Regions from separate parts of the Homo sapiens genome. Here region 2 is linked to region 1. The links come from fine-mapping of genetic effects on gene expression. Tissue or cell type: esophagus muscle. Region 1 holds a variant in brackets; the other region holds the start of a gene. All regions are shown on one strand. Distances are from middle to middle.

Region 1 (8,263 bases):
TAAGGGTCTGATCACGTGTTGTAGCCACAGGAGAGGTGCACCTTTGTTCACAAGAGGTCAAATACATCCTTCTTGAGCTCTCAACTCCAAAGACTCATACAAAAGTCCAGTTGGGGCCAGCTGCCGTGGCTCACGCCTGTAATCCCAGCACTTCAGAAGGCCAAGGCAGGAGGATTGCTTCAGGCCAGGAATTCGAGACCAGCCTGGGCAGCATAGCAAGACTCCATCTCTATAAAATAATAATAATAAAATAATAAAAATAATAAAATAAAAATAATAATAAAATAATAAAAATTAGTGGCCCATGCTTGGAGTCCCAGCTACTCAGGAGGCTAAGGTGGGAGGATCTCTTGAGCCGAGGAGTTTGAGGCTGCAGTGAGCCATGATCATACCACTACAGTCTAGCCCAGGCGACAGAGCAAGACCCTGCCTCTAAAAAAAAAAGTCCACTTGAGACTGGAGGAGCCCTAGAGGGTTCCCCGGAGGAGATGGCACTTTGAGCCAGGCCTGAAGGATGGATCAGGTTTCAAGCAGAGGAGATGGATGAGAAAAGATGCTGCCAGATGAGGGAACAGCATGGGCAAACGCAACGAGGAGAGAAAGTACCAGATACGTGGGAGGGAAATGCATAGCTAAGTGTGGTTTGAGCCTGAAGAAGCTGGGAAGGGCTGACGGGGCTAGGCTGAGAGATGTGGAGAGGTGGTAAAATTTAGGGGTGAAGGACTTGTGCTCCGAGGTCAAGGTCCAGCTCTGCCTCTTAGCAGCTGGGTGATCTGAGACAGTTACGAACCTCTGTGAACATTGGCATCCTCGTCTTCAAAATAGTAATAACAACACCACCTACCTTCCAGGTTAACAGGATCAAATGAGATGGCACATGGGATGTGCTTCCCACTGGGCCAGGCATGGAGGGTGTACTCCCAAAAGTAGGCTGAGTGGCCACGACAGTGTTGCTAGGGCTTGGCTTGGGGAGAAGATAAACCAGTGGGTGGAGGGAAGGTGCCAGGCATTGCTGTCAGAGGCGAGATGGCCCCTGTTTTTTGTCACCTTTTTTTGTTTTTGTTCCTTGTCTCTTTCAGGGTCCTCCTGGGCCTTATGGAAATCCAGGTCTCCCCGGCCCTCCTGGAGCCAAAGTGAGTATTTGCTGGAGATGTGGCCATGGAGTGGGTGCTGGGGTTGGAGCCATGTTTGCAGTGCTTCCCAGGGGTGCCTGGTGGGAGGGCTTCAGGGGAACTGAGGGGGATTCCCGCCTAAGCCAGGGGCACCCTCTGGGCCCCTTTCCAGGGCTGGGCCCTGTGCCTGGTCCGGAGACACAGTGCTTCCGTCTGGGAGAGACTTGGGAGAGTCGGGCAGTTGGAACCCAGAGCCTTCAGGGGAGTGGGCAGAGAGGTGATTTCTTGCTAAATAGGGAAGGCTGGCCTTGAATGTCAGACTAAGAACATAAGGCTTACCGGGTTGTAAGATGCATCCTGGGGAGGGATGTGGAAAGATGACGTTTTAGAAAGCTCACTGGATGCCCTGAGGAGGATGAATGCGGGGTGGGGAACCAGAGCCAAGGCCGGGAGACCAGGGGTGATATGGGGGAGAAAGGAGGCTAGTCCGGGCCAACTTAGGGGTGTGGGAGGAGGTAGGGTGGAAAGGATGGTGGTGGGTGCAAGGTGAGAGACAGTTACAAACACCAGACAGTTTTTACCTCCCTGATGTTAGCCTTGGGGACTGAACTGGGTCCCAGGAGGAGGAGTAAGATGATGTTGCACGCAGGAACATGTAGCCCGGTCAAGTGATCATTCATGGACAGATATTCTGGAACTCAGGATTGCTCTGAGCTGGAGACAGAGCCAGGGGGAGGCTGGCGCAGAGATGCCACCTCCCCCAGGGAGTCTTCTTGGAATACTCGAATTCACTTTTAATGAGACCTTAGTGGCTGATGCTTTGATGATATGGGAACACCACTTGCTGAGCTCTTCAGTCTGTTCCCGGAGCTCTGGCAGAGGGCAAGGTTGTTGGGGCACTGCATTGGAAGTGAGAAACTCAGAGCACCAAGAGGATTGCCGGAGCCAGCAACATTTAGGTCATGGGAAAAGAAAGTTTGTGGAATGGCTGGAGAGATAGGAGGGGAAGGAAGATGCTAAAGTCCCTGAAGCTAAGAGAACAGTGCCTGTGCCGAAGGAGCTGTGGAGGGGGCAGATGGGCTCCTGACTCAGGGGCCTCCCAGCTCAGCCTGTGTCATCTGTGGGGTAACCAGGTGAAGAGCACCCCCGTGCTTTGGTTGGGCCAGGTCCCGGGTCATTCTTTGATAACCCAGCTGCAGAGGTTGAATGGCTTAAGGGAAGCCCTTAACTGATTGGCTCCAGGCCATGCACAGTGAGCTGCTGAGCAGCCTCTAAAGCCCATCTCTCCTGAGTCATGGAGTAGGGCTCCTTTTGGCCCATCAGCTTGTCTGGGAGCTTTGGACAGAGGTCTCACATGGTAGCCCTGGGCATATGGATCTGTGGTGTCAGAGTCTTGGGGCAGAGCAGAGTGCAGGAGCACTGGCCTCAGCCCCTCTAGATCTGTGACTCTACGTCCAGGGTTGGGCTGGGCTGGGTTCCTTTCCGGAAGGCAGGCAGTGGAGGCCTCAGGTGTCCAGTGCTTAGCAGCTGCCTGGAGGTGCTCTGGGCTTTCACAGGGTGAACACTGATGATAATAACAGCCATATACTGAACCCTTCCTGTGTGCCAGGCACTGTTCATGCGTTTGATGTGGCTTGTCTCATTTGATCACCACAAAGACCTAAAGAGATGGGTGGAGATACCGTACCCATTTACAGATGGGGAAACTGAGGCACGGGTCGAGTAAGACATTGTCTAGGAAATGGCAGTGGAGACTGCCCCCATGGGTCAGGCAGAGAGGCAGGAACTCATTTGGAGAGTTCTGCTTTGCAGAGGCCATGGCACATCAAGATGCCGAGCATCAGCAGCTGTTTTGAATGGCCAGGCTTGCCCCTTCCTGGCCTGCTCTGGGACCAGTGGAGCCTGTCTCCTCCCACCCCCAGACTCACTCCCTGCTCCTGTGGTAGCAGATGCTCCATCAGCCCCTTCTGCTGGCCCTGCTCAGAGCACTGTGGAACCTCAGTACCAGGCCCATGGTAGCCCACCCCAATCTTGCTAACAGATGTGCCATGGTAGGAGGAGGGCCTGCCAGCTGTTTCTCCTCGCATTTTGAACACATCTCTTAGTATGACCACTGAGGCTCCTCCCTAGCAAGTGAGTTCTCCTGCCACCACATGGAGCTGGGAACCATGGACTCAGGGCCTCATGGACAGGACTCCCATTTGCATCTGTGTATAATAGATAAGGATGTGGGTTCTATAAAATACACTGGAATCAGAGGCTGCTTCTCTCATTGGGACTTGCATAAAATGCCAGGGGGAAATGTCATGCCCTTTGCCTGGACACTTGGCCCTGAGGCCAAGGGTGAACAGAGGTGGCCCCAGAGCAGGCTGGTGGGAGGCCCAGTTAACTGGGCCAGGGCCCTAGGCTGATCTGTGGCATGGGCAGGACAAGGTTAAAGCAGAGGCCTTCCCTGGATGGAAGTAATGACTTGGCTGAGATTGGCTGAGAAAGCTGTGTGTCTGCATGAATGGGTGGGACCCTGGGAAGAGGGTCCTAGAGTCCTTACTGTTCAGCAGATCCCCTTTGGGATGGGAGGTGACCTGGTGGGACTGTAGGGCTGGCCTCCCCCAGGGCCTATGCTGTCCCGTCCTCTTCCAGCATGGTGTCTGGGGCCACACATCCATTCATCCTCCTTCAGTCAACAAACGTGTATTGAGCACCCACTACGGGCTGTTGACAGATAAATCAGTCACACTGTCAGGGCTTGCCCTGGGGGCACGGAACTGGATCAGCCCCATGCAGTCATCCCATCAGTGCATCTCCACCTTCAGGTGCTTATGGCCTTGTGGGAAGACGATCCCTCTGCTAGACTCAAGGGTGGGAGAGATGGGTGGTTTGAGGAAGACCAAGAAAGAGAGAAAGCAGAGGTGAGGGACCTCATCCCTCCGGAGGGTGCAGAAGAGTGAAAGTTCAGGAGGCCAAGGGACCTTGCCTAGATCACGGCTGGGCAGTGGGGGGACTGTATTTCAGATCCTTGGGTTTGCCTGCCAGAAGGAGCTTTGTCAGGGTGTCACAGCTGGCACAGGCCAGAGCCAGGCCACACCCCATCTTCCTCCTCCAGAGTCCAAGGCTTTGCCTATCTGCCAGCTACCCACATATCCCATGTTCCAATCCAGCAGGGAAGGGAGCTTGTCAGCTCCAGCACAGAGTTGGATCCAGGACTTTGAGAATGAGGCAGAGAAGCTAGGACCCTGAGAGGATGTGTTTCCGCTTAGAGCGGTGCTGACC[C/T]GTGGCAGGTGCTGCAGAAGGGGCAGTTGTCTGCATGTGTGAGGCACTGGGGCTACCAGGGACACAGGCAGGCATGGTCCCTGCCCTTGGGGAGTGTAGAGGTGAGCGAGAAAGCAAAACAAGCCAACCATATTGACAAATGCAGACTTACACCATGATTAGGTCTCTAGGGCTCCATGTGAGAGGCCCGGAGTGCTCGGAGACCCCACGATATGGGGATTGATCTAGTCCGGGAGGTGAGGGACACCTTCTCAGAGGGCAGGAAGGTTGAACCAAGGTCTAAAGTATAGTGGACGACTAGGCAAAGGGGCTGGAGGAGGCTGGTGAGGGCAACAGGCCTGGTAGTTTGCGGTATGATTTTCGGACTTTATCCAAAGAGCAGCTGGAAGACCTGGAAAGGATTTCAGCAGAATTGACATGACTGGATGAGGTCTGCAAACGCCATTTAGGCCATTTGAGAAGCAGAGCTTGGCTGGTGGCCAGATGGAGGGCTGGAGCTGCCCCTGGGGCAGGGTGCTGATGCTGGACCATGGTGGAGTCAGGTGGGATGCAGGTCCTTGGTGCAAATGAGGAGCTCTAGGGCAGAGGTGGGGGTCTCCTTCTGGATAGGGAAGCTAGTGCTCCCCGCCAGTGCTCCCTGCACTGGGCCATGAGGCTCCTGGTTCCACTCTTGAGCAGCCAGCCACCTTGTCTCTGGTCTGGTCCACTTGGTCTGCAGTGAACTAGCCAGGATGATATGGCCCTCAGACACTGGGAAGGAGATGTGGTCAGCAGAGGGCAGGCTCCATGGCCCAGGTGGCTGCTGGCAGAGCTAGTGTGAGCTTTACCTTTCCTCTTCCTCTAATGTTCCTTCCTTTGGGCCAGGCCCTGTGCTGGGCACTTGAGATCAGAGATGGAGTATGCAGGGGGCTTCCAGCCCAGAATATTTTAATCCTTTGTGATTTAGTGCTCATTTGTCTCAGCCCCACCCTGGGCCTCAGCCACCCAAGGAAAATATGGAGAAGTCCAGAAGATGTCAAGAAGAAAGTGAGCTATCTGTAGTGGTCCTGCCCAGTAATAAGCTCTGAGAGCACTTTGAGCAACCTTTGGGCCAGGCCCCGGCCAAGAGCTTTATGTACTTTGCAGGGCAGGTATTATTACCCCCATTTTACAGATGAGGGAATAGGTCCAAGATGCTAAATAACTTGCCCAGTGTCACATTTCTAGTAAGTGGCAGAGCACGCATTCAAACCCTCAACTGTCTGACCTCAAGGTGTCAATCTAGCCCTCAGCTCCACAGCTCTCTGGTCTTCCCTGTGTGTGTCACATATGTGAGTGTGGATCCACTTTGTAGTGGCTGGGTATCTGGCCTTCCTCACTTAACAATTATTGTGAACATTCTCCTGTGTTAGCAACTTGGCATCCATCACATATGATTTAATAGCTTCATGGCATTTTATCAACACTAATATCCCATGCTTTATATAACTTACTCCATTAGTAAAAAAAAATCAGTTCCACTTTAAATTAATATACAAATATTATCTTGATTAACATTACTGTATGTAAATGTTAGAATATCTCCAATTATTTCATTAGGATAAGTTCATCAAAAATAGAATTGCTGATGTGGTCTCAGGAGTCAGTGTGCCCAAGTTTGAATCCTGGCTCTACTGATGCAGGGCAGACAAGCCCCAAATTGGGGATTAGCCTGGGAGGGTTTTTGGCTTCACTCAGGAAAGAATTCAACAGCCAGCTGGTGGTAGAAGAAAACAGCTTTATTGATGTGGCAGTACAGCTCCGTGACTGCTCCGGCACAGCAGGGCTACCCCATAGGCAGTGTGCTGACAGTAACGGTTCAGAGGCAATTCTGCAGTCATATTTATGCCCACCTTTAATTATATGCAAATTAAGAGGCAGAGTATGCAGACATTTCTAGAAAAGTGGTGGTAACTTCCAGGTCATCAGGTCATTGCCATGGAAAGGGGCAGTCACTTTCAGGTTGTCACCTGAGAGGTGATTCTACCTCATGCCTGTTTTAGCTAGTCCTCAATTTGGTCCCAAGTCCAAGCCCTGCCTCCAGAGTCAAGTCTCATCTCCCACCTCACTACCATTTGCTGCTTGTATGACTTTGGGCAAGTTACTTAAAACTTGGAGGGCCTCAGCTTCCACTTCTGTAAAACAAGGATGATCATAGTTCATACCTCATAGGATTGTTCTGAGGATTAAACTGTGTGTGTGTGTATGTGCACACATATATGTGTATTTATATATGTATATGTAGACATATATCAAGACATATACCAAGATATATTTGTATATACATACACAGGCATACATACACATATATACAAATGATTTATAATATGCCTTGCACATGAGAGACATATAAGTGCTTAGCTGTTATTTTATTAGCAATTGCCTTCTAGAAAGGTTAAACTGATTTATGCTGCTGCTAGCATTAAAGGAAGATATTTTTAAAAGAAGATAATTTATTATCATTTTCACTTCATTGATCATCTATGAGATGTATGTTTTTCTTAAATCTCTTTTCCATTTGTACTTCACCACTTATGAGTGGGTTTATTTTGGAAGGTTGGGATGTTGCCATTTGTTATTGGTTTGTAAACATTATTTTGAGGTTATTAAGGCTTCATCCACCTTACAAATATTTTCTAGTTTGTTGTTTGCTTCTTAAGAGTATTCATGATGATTTTCACAAATAGAAATGTTATCCTTTAAAAAAAATAATGTGTCAGATAATCTCAGGAGGGCTCTATTCATCTATAAAATCTGTGGTTCTTTATTTTGCTTTTATACATAGGAATGTTTTTCCCATTTTAAGGTCAGATAGGTATTCATTTATATTCCTTGTAATTTCATAAAATCATTTGTACTCTTAAAAAATTAAAACCATCTGGAATTCATGTTAATGGGGGTGATGGAAATGAAGTTGGGCTCCAGCATTATTTCTCCTCCAACAGTTAACCACTTGTTAAACCATCTTTCCTCCACTGTTTACTCTATGATAGACATGGGTCTAATACAAGCCATTGTATTATGTTTCATTGTTTATTTATTTTTATGCTAGTAAAATACCAATTATATGACATTTACTATCTTTATTCTGTGTATCCTCCTTCTTTTCTTCATTTAAAACATTTCTGGCTATTTATTCTATCAGATGAACCTTATGCCTATCTTAATAATTTCCTTGAAAAAACGCTTGGGATTTTTACTGGAATTGTAATTAAATACATATATTAATTTGTGAAGAATTGCCGTCTTTAAAATATTACATTTTTCTATCTAAAAACATGGCATGTCTTCCTATTTGGTTGAATTTTTACAATGTCTCTTAGTAAACTTTAATGGTTTTTATTACATAAGCCCTGCACATTTCTTATTAGGTTTATACTTAGAAATTTTATATATTTTTTTGCTGTCCTGAATGGAATATTCTCCCCATTATATTTTCTAGATAGCTCTCATCTAGTGAAAATAACTATTGATTTTTGTATTTTTTTACTTTTTGTATTTAATTTATAACCATCCCCTTACTGAATCACCTTATTAATTCTATTAGTATTTCTGTTGGGTCTCCTGGATTTTATAGATAGGCATTCACATTATTTGCAGAAAAGAACATATTGTTGTCTCATTTTCCTCAAAGGTTAGTAGTTCTTATTTATTTTTCCTGCCTTATTGCATTGTCCAGAACTTCTAGACCCATGAAAATAGTCGTACTGATAGTGAGAGGCCTAGTGAAAATTCAGAGACAGTTCTGGGGCAGGAGCCAGATTTGACCCATTCCTATCCCTACCATTGTCTCTTGAGACTCTGTTCACTCATTTGCTCATTTGTGAAACATTTTATGTTGACTTCTCTGGGCCAGGCCCTGT
Region 2 (8,000 bases), 320 kb after region 1:
TTATCTGGACCTGTCACTGCTGATTTTGCAAATGGGTTTCAAGAGAGGGGTGGAAGCCCCAATGGATATAGGATCAAATCCTCACTGAACTGCTTCAGGTAACAATGGATGCTTGATTTATCAGAAAGAGAAGTGGAAAAAACTTTGCTCGACCCACTCTTTAAAAAGCTGCAACTTTCCTTTATTCATAAATTATTAGGTAACTTGATTCCTAAAATTTAATTTAATTTAATTTTTATTACACACACACACACACACACACACACACACACACACTGAATCTCTCCGTTTGGGAAGCTCAGAGGATCTCCTCCCCCTCACCCCACCTTCCATCGCAGGAAAAAAAATATTGTTAAGACTGAAAACACATCTTCTACTAAATGCAATGTGGTATCCTAGAATAAAATAAGGACATAGGCAGAAAAACTGGTGAAATTTGAATGAAGTCTGAAGTCCAGTTAACAGTAATGTACTTTTACCATAAAATCCCCGACATGGTGACTCGCAGCACTGCAGTTTACAAAGAACGGCTCCCCGTGGAGAAATCCTGGTTAAGGGCAGTCTGTGCCTAGTAGAAAAGCTGGGGCCTCTTTCAGCTTTCAGTTAAGGGGCTTTTCGCTCTTAATTTTGTGGAAATGTGTCAACAGTTCTCCAGGTGTTCTTTTAAACTGTCCCTGAAACTACACGAGGAGTGCCATGGCCTCAGGGAAGAAGTTCCGCCTCCTCCATTTTAAAATTCCACCCACCAAAGAAAAGTCTGTCCTCTTTTCCTCCTGGGGTTAATGTAACACAAAGCAGCCATCATTTTGCCTGTTGCTTCTGAAGGGTCCAAAGGGTCCATGTCAGGCAGGTTATGTGTCCCGCCATGGCTAGAAGTGGGGTGACCCTGGGGCAAGAGCTCATTTTGCCAATGTAGCCACCTCTGTTGGGAAAATGACAGTCAAGAGACAGAGCTGCTCAGCTCACACAGGCTCCTGCACCACAGGCTGCCACACTTAAAGGACAGCTCTGCTCCTATCAACCTCTCCCTTGCCAGCAAGGGTTTATTCTCAGGCTTCAAAAACTATGACATGGAGAGTTTAGGTTTTACTCTGGAAGCAGCAAGAGTAAACAAACAAGCTAAAGGCTGGTGCTGCTCTGAGTCACAGTTTAACAGCACCATGGTGTTACTGAGGGAGATTCAGAGAGAAGATCTGGAGCGGGCTCAATGAAATGGTGGTGGGGGAAGGCGGGGGTGGCAGGCGGGGAGCACTGCTGGTAAACTGAAACTCACAGCCAAGCAGCTTGACCTTTATGGCACAGCTGAGTCTGGGGTGCAAATTGAAGGGACAGTCTGCGTTTTGAATGCCCAAGGTAACTGACAGCCTTTCCAAAGCATATCACCTTATCACCTTGTGACCGTTAAGTTACCCAAGTCTTTTTAAATTGCCACTAAAACTGAATCCACATTTACAAATGATCATTTGCCTCAAGTATCTTTAGTGCATAAATTTATCATCTGGGAACTCCAGACCATTTAAGGCCAAGGCTAATGGACTACTTCTTTATAAATATATGGAATGCTAAACAAAGGGAAAAGATTGATAGAGGGGGAAGAGGAATTGTTGCATGGAAACTCACAACGAGCTTTGCCCACTGCACCCTGATGCAGTATAAACCGATCGGCCTTTTTCCAGAAGCTACAAAGAAGTTTCTGAAAGCCTCAAGGGCTTCCTCCAAAGGGGTTGATGGGCTGGGAAGCAAATGAGGGAAGCCAACATCAGGTGCACAGCCAGGGAGACGGCTCAAGACTCACCTGGACACAGGCCACTGAACGGCACTCAGGAGGAAGTAGTCGTGGGCCTCTGCTGCCTAGGAGTTTCCCAGCAGCCAGCAGGCCCTCAGCTGGAGTTCAAAACACCTGCGCTGGCGGGGAGTGGGGGTTTACAGAACAGTCCAACCCCCTGAGAAGCATTTCTCTGCAGAAGCAGAGCATGTGTCCCTTTTCCCCCAAACTCTTCACTTCTTGTACGCAAAGGAGGTCGGGGGAGGGGGGAAGGGGGAAAAATGCCTGCAAAGGATCCATGAATCCACCCTGGACCCAACACTATCCATCATACTCCAACTGGTTTTCAGTAGCCCTGGGCTGTAGATCAGTAAGCACACACACTCCTTTAAAAAGCATGATTAAATCCCTGGAAGCCTGTTGTCATGAGGTTATATTTCTCAATTAACAAATGGCAGAAAGGACAAACACTCTCAGGGGCTAGGGAATTTATTTTTTACATTCAGGCAGGAGTCTCATTTCCAAAAAGGTTAGGGACCGCTTATTTGGTCCAGTGGCCCCATTTTCCAAGTGGAGAACAAGAGGTCCTGAGAGGGCAAGTGACTTGCTTCAGGATACACAACCTGGTCCAAAAACAGCAGCGTCAAGCCAGTGCACTGTGGATCACACAAACGGCCTCCTCAGGCCACTTAAGAGCTAACAAAACTGTTTCAGGGAAAAACAAAAAACAAAAAACCACAGAATGGCAGTAGCAAAGGCCACCTAATTATGCCAAGCAGAGATTTTATCTCTTTTAATGCTCATAAGAATCCACAGCCCTATTCACACATTGTAACCACACATTTGCTCAAGTATTTGTTACTATCACCTGCACTAGCTTTTAAGCCTCACAAAGGCAAGGGCCATGTCTGTGCAGAACTACGTTCCCAGTGCCTGAGAGCTATTTGCTCTGTAAGCTATACATTCCTGTTTTAAAGTATTAAAAAAAAAAAAAAAGCCCAGAAAGGCCAAGTGATTCATCTAAGGACACACAGCATGGAGTTACTGAAAAAGCTGTGCCACTCTGTCCATACTCTGCCCCAGACTCTCTCCAAACCACAGCCTTACCTTGACGGCCTCCGCGTGGGTCACCCGGGCCAGGGATTTGTCGTTGACGCGCAGAATCTGGTCCCCGACCCGCAGTCCTTCCTTCTCAGCTAGAGAGCCTGGTTCCACCAGAGACACGTAGATGCCCACGCCGTGCTCCGAGCCCCCACGGATGCTGAAGCCCAAGCCCTCGTGGGCCTTGGCACGCCGCAAACTCACCAGGCGCACCTCCCCTGGCCCCGCGCTGTCGGGGCCGCCCCAGGCGGGCTGCCTGTAGGGGGTGGTGGCGGGCAGGTAGAGGCCCTCGGCCGTGTATTGGTCGAAGAGCAGCTGGTCGGAGCGCGGGATGACCAGACGAAGCATGGGCAGCAGGCGCCGCTTGACCGGACTGTCCAGCAGCACGCGCAGGGTGCGCACCAGGTCGAAGACGTTGCGGCGCGCGTGGTAAGCGTTCAGGCAGTGGGTGAACTGCTCCCGCTCCGCCTCGCTCAGCAGCGCGGTCAGCGCTTGGTGCAGCTGGCGCACGTTGGCAGACAGTAACCGCAGCCCCGCGCCCCCGCCGCCGCCCGCCCCGGCCGCCGAGCCCAGCGAGCCGGTGGAGGACGAGCTCACCGACAGGCCGTCCAGCGGCGCGTTCATCTCCACGCCGAGGCCCGGCCGGGCTCTGAGCGCGCGGGGTGTGGGCGGTGCCGCTGTCCTCGCGGGTACTGGCGCGACAGCTGGATCCCCGGGAGCGCGGAGACGACGGCTGGAGCCTGGGTTTGGGGAGCACGGGTACAGTGGCTGGATCCTAGGGGGTCGCGGAGACCGCTGCTAGAGTCCCGGAGGCGCGAAGACGGCGGGGGTCGCGAACCTGGAATCCGGGGGACGCGGAGACGTCGGCGGGTTCCTGAGAGACACAAGAGTTGGCTGCTGGAGCCCGGAGGTGGCGGAGACTGCTGCTGGAGTCCGGGGGGCGCGGGGTCAGCAGCTACATTCTGGAGGGCACGGAGACGACGGGTGGCTGGAGTTTGGGGGCGCCGCAAAGCTGACCTGACTGCCCCGTCACACCATGCCCGGGGCTCCCCCAGCCGGGCGCCCGTTCCTCTAGGGCTGGGGGACCCCAAAGTCAGAAGTTGGGGCGGAGGGCGCTCTAGTCCCAGAGCACTCCGGGGAGTGGCAGCCGGTGAAGCGGCGCGGGCGTCCGACAAGGGGTGCGGGGCATGTCCGGGGCAGCCCCGGGATGCAGCCGCCCGGGGAGCCTCCGCGCCTCTGCGCCGCCCGGCCGCAAGCCCGGACTTTGCGAACTGTTGAGCCACCCGGGCCGAGTCTTCCAGCGAGTTCCGACGCCGTCTCGTTGCCAGCCCGGCCCGGGCCCCGCCCCCTCGTCCCTCCTCCTGCCCGCCCCCTCCCCACGGGCTCCTCAGGAAATGACGTCCCGCCCGGTGCGCCTGGCCGTTGCCTGGAGACGGGGTGAAACAGTCCAGCCCCAGGGAAGAAAGGGGTGAACGCGGCGGTAGGGGTGGGAGGAGCCCCCGCGTCCCCTACCCCGCCGGCAGAGCCGGGAGCGGGGCTCAGAAACAGCGCTCTTCGGCGGTCGCAGCGAGTGCCGACACCAGGATCGCTTTGGAGTAATTAGCCGGCTAGCTAATTCACAATTCGGGGGGAAATCGTCAAGTTTTTTGTTTGTTTGATTTTTGCTTCCAAAATACTGGGCACTTCAGTCTCGGTTTTCTTCCTTACAATGTGGCGCTCCCCTCCTGCACGCGCCCTGACATGACAAATTCCAGGGTTTATGTGGACGGTCGTTGGCCACCTACTGTGTGCGAGAGACGAATACAAGCATAGACTGCTGTCTGCCGGAGTCAACTCCGTGGCAGGGATGGATCAGGCTGGACCCCTTCCCAGTCTCCATTGCAAGGGAAAAGCCACTTTCAGAAATATTATATAAAGTGTACACCCCACGCTCGCGCACACACGTACAAATGAGCGCATATAAAACTGGTGAAATCTGAGTAAGGTGGGTGGATTTTATCAATGTCAATGTCCTGGTTGCCATCGTGTCAACATCGGGGGAAACTGGGTGAAGGGTACATGGCATGTCTATGTATTATTTCTTAGAACTGCATTTGGATCTACAATCTCAAAATAGAAATTAAAAATATACATATTTGAAGTGGCTTGGAGAAAAATCTCTTCTATGCTCTCCCATCCCTAGGCAAAATGGGAAGATACACCCAGGTGTGCCCTGGAGTCGGTCGTCACCCACCCAATCCCCCAAATAAGATTTAAGTAAAATCCTGTGCTTTTATTCTAATGGGGAGCTTCATAGTGCTACACACACACACACACACATACACACACACACCCTACCTCACACACATCCCTTCCAACCTGAGCTGCCTCTCCTAAGCTACTCTTCTATGTATTTTTCGTAAAAGTCTTCCAGAATTTCCATTGCAGAGCCAGCTGACATCTATCCAGGGTAGGGCAAGATGGAGGATTACCTGGAGGATTTGGTTTGTGGTGGACCCAGAAGGATAGATCATTCATTTATTTATTTATTTATTTATTTATTTATTTATTTATTTATTTGGTCGCTTTTCATTCAACGTTTTTGAAGCATCTGCTCTGTGCTGGGTCATGTGCTGGGTGCTGGAGACCCAGGGGAGAAAGATCAAATAAATAGAGTTAAAAACCAGTGTGATACCTGTTGTAATGGCGAGGGAGCCCAGGTTTAGGAGAGGAGAATATGGTAAGGACTTTACTGAAGAGGCGACACCTGAATGAAGAACCTGTAAGGAAAACGGACTTTCTCCTCTAGACAATGGGGAAGAGTGGAAAGGTTTTCAACACTGCTGACTTAATGCATTGAGGCTAGGAATGGAAGCTGTGTTTTCCCTAAAGATCTTCAATTCTTTACTTCCCTAAAACAGACATAGGTTAAATTAATGCCCAATAAACATATTTAACAGTGTGTCTGAGGAAGATTTTTTAAAAAATAGCCAATTAGGCTACCTTTGGCCATCTGTCTTAAAGCTCTAATCTTAGCAGTTAATGGTGTCTATCCTTATTCCTCCTTTGTAACTGTTGTTGAAGCCTTTCATGCAACTAGACCAAGATGTTTAAGGAAAAAAAATCAATCTTCTCCACCCCAAAAATGTATTAATGACATACCTCAAAATGCCACCAAGCAGGGCTTAATTGTATGCAGTTCAGGTTTCCTGCTAATGTGTTTCATGCTCAGCTCTCACTTAGTTTGTTTTAATTATAATTACTGTGATTGGTTTGATAAATGCATCCCAGGAGCTAAGATCCCCAGTCCCAACATTTTATTTCTGTGCAAAGGATGTTTTCAAGAAGGTGTTTTGCTTTAGGCAGCAGAAACCAGGCTGCATGCAGTCTTAGTAGAAAAAGAAACACTTTCTTCTGCAAACATCAGAGACCGTCTGAAATGCTGTGCTGTTGTTTAATTTCATAGAGGACGGTTTGGGAGGGCAGATGATAGAAAAAGAAATCGTTGGAGTTTCTTCCATCCATCTTACATAACCACCTTAGTATCAGTTTGCACTGTGTCCCCTCAGGCAAGAGGCAGTGTGTAACTGTGCTCAAACCTCCAGAATCCTATTTCATGTATGAAGATGTTTGTCATTCAGAAATAAGCTCTTGGAAATAAATGCTTCAGCTTCTGAGGGCTGCACTGCAAGACCTGGGAGAAAAACCTGAGTACACAACTTGCCCTTGGTTGCATACTGCCCTCTTCAGAGGGAAAATATTATTCTCCCATGCATGCAGCAGGCTTCCGTTTGCTTTCTTCACCAAAGCCACTTTTAATTGTTCATTAACGCTCCCCAGCTCTGGCCAGTGAATGCCCTTCCCTTCCCTTAGGAATGTTCCTGGAAACTTGAACACACTGGAGCAGTTGAAAAGACAGAAGGAAGAAGAATAAATTGTGTTGGGCGTTTTTCTTTTTCTTTTTTTTTCTAGACGGTCTCATTCTGTCACCCAGGCTGCAGTACAGTGGCATGATCATGGCTCACTGCAGCCTCCACTACCAGGCACAGTATCCTCCCACCTCAGCCTCCTGGTTAGCTGGCACTGCAATGCCTGGCTAATTTTTTGTATTTTTCATGAAGACAGGATTTCACCATGTTGCCCAGGCTGGTCTCGAACTCCTGGGGTTAAGCAATCCATCCACCTTGGCCTCCCAGGGTGCTGGAATTACAGATGTAAGTCACCACAGCAGGCCAGTGGTTTAGTTCCTATGTGTTGATTTTAACCAAGAAGTTGAGCTGCACTCTGGATACCAGGCAGAAAACCATTATTCCAGTCTCAGAGCTTCCCTTTAACTAGTTGTGTGACCCCACAGCAAGTGGCTTCACCTTTCATTTGTAAAATAAGGCTCCCAAACGTCCTGCCTCCCCAACATCCTGCCTCCCCAGAAGACAACTGCAACCTGTATGTTTCATGTTCTGTGCAGCAAATGAAAACATGTTGCAACTCATGGAGTAACATAGAGTTATTTTCCCTCTTTGTTATGTCAATCTTAAAAAGTCTTTTGCTAATAAATATTTCATAGTCATTGGAAGTGTCTCTCCTTTCCCTTTATCTGCTGGAATGTACCTTTAAAAGCAATGGAGATGAATTTGAGGTGCCTTTGCCATGGGACATACAGAAAAATAAAGCTAATGTTTATTGAGTGTCAAACTGTTTTAGACGCTTGTATTTTAACTCATTGTGTCCTCCCACTACTCTGTAAGGGAGATACCATCATCATCACCACCATCATCATCATGCTCCTGGTGAAACAGACAGGACATTGAGACATAGGGAAGTAACCATACCCAAATTTACAGAAGTAGTGAATGGAAGAGTTGGGATTTGAACCCAAACAGTCTGGCCGCAGAGCTCCTACTTTGAACCCCTGTGCTGTGCGATCCCCCCAATGTTTGGCTCAGAAATGCTGAACTGTCTCAGTATCTCTGCTGGGGCTGGTATGAGGACCACATTTTCCCATGGATGGGAATGGTATGAGGGTCACTCTTTCTCTAGAAAATTTGGCTGGGAATATCAAAGGTTAAAAACAAGCTACATATGAACGATTCCTGTTTCATAAGCTGACATTTTGTGGTGGAAGGAATGAACAGGGGTTTAGTCAAGAAGATGTCAC

The links. PIP is the estimated chance that this variant, and not a neighbour inherited with it, causes the effect.
Region 2: WHRN starts here. The variant in region 1 is fine-mapped to the expression of WHRN in esophagus muscle (GTEx, PIP 0.93).

What each region holds. Positions count from the first base shown.
Region 1 is chr9:114,181,943-114,190,205 of GRCh38, forward strand. COL27A1 (collagen type XXVII alpha 1 chain) reads left to right here. Exons shown (of 61, transcript NM_032888.4): 5 at 1,080-1,133. Among named protein-coding and RNA genes, the nearest start is that of MIR455, 23 kb to the right of the region's middle. The variant C/T (reference allele first, on the strand shown) is at 4,383.
Region 2 is chr9:114,501,312-114,509,311 of GRCh38, forward strand. It overlaps WHRN (whirlin), which reads right to left and starts at 4,162. Exons shown (of 12, transcript NM_015404.4): 1 at 2,873-4,162. The coding sequence starts at 3,490. RefSeq lists enhancers at 2,651-3,541, 3,542-4,432 and a silencer at 3,957-4,256.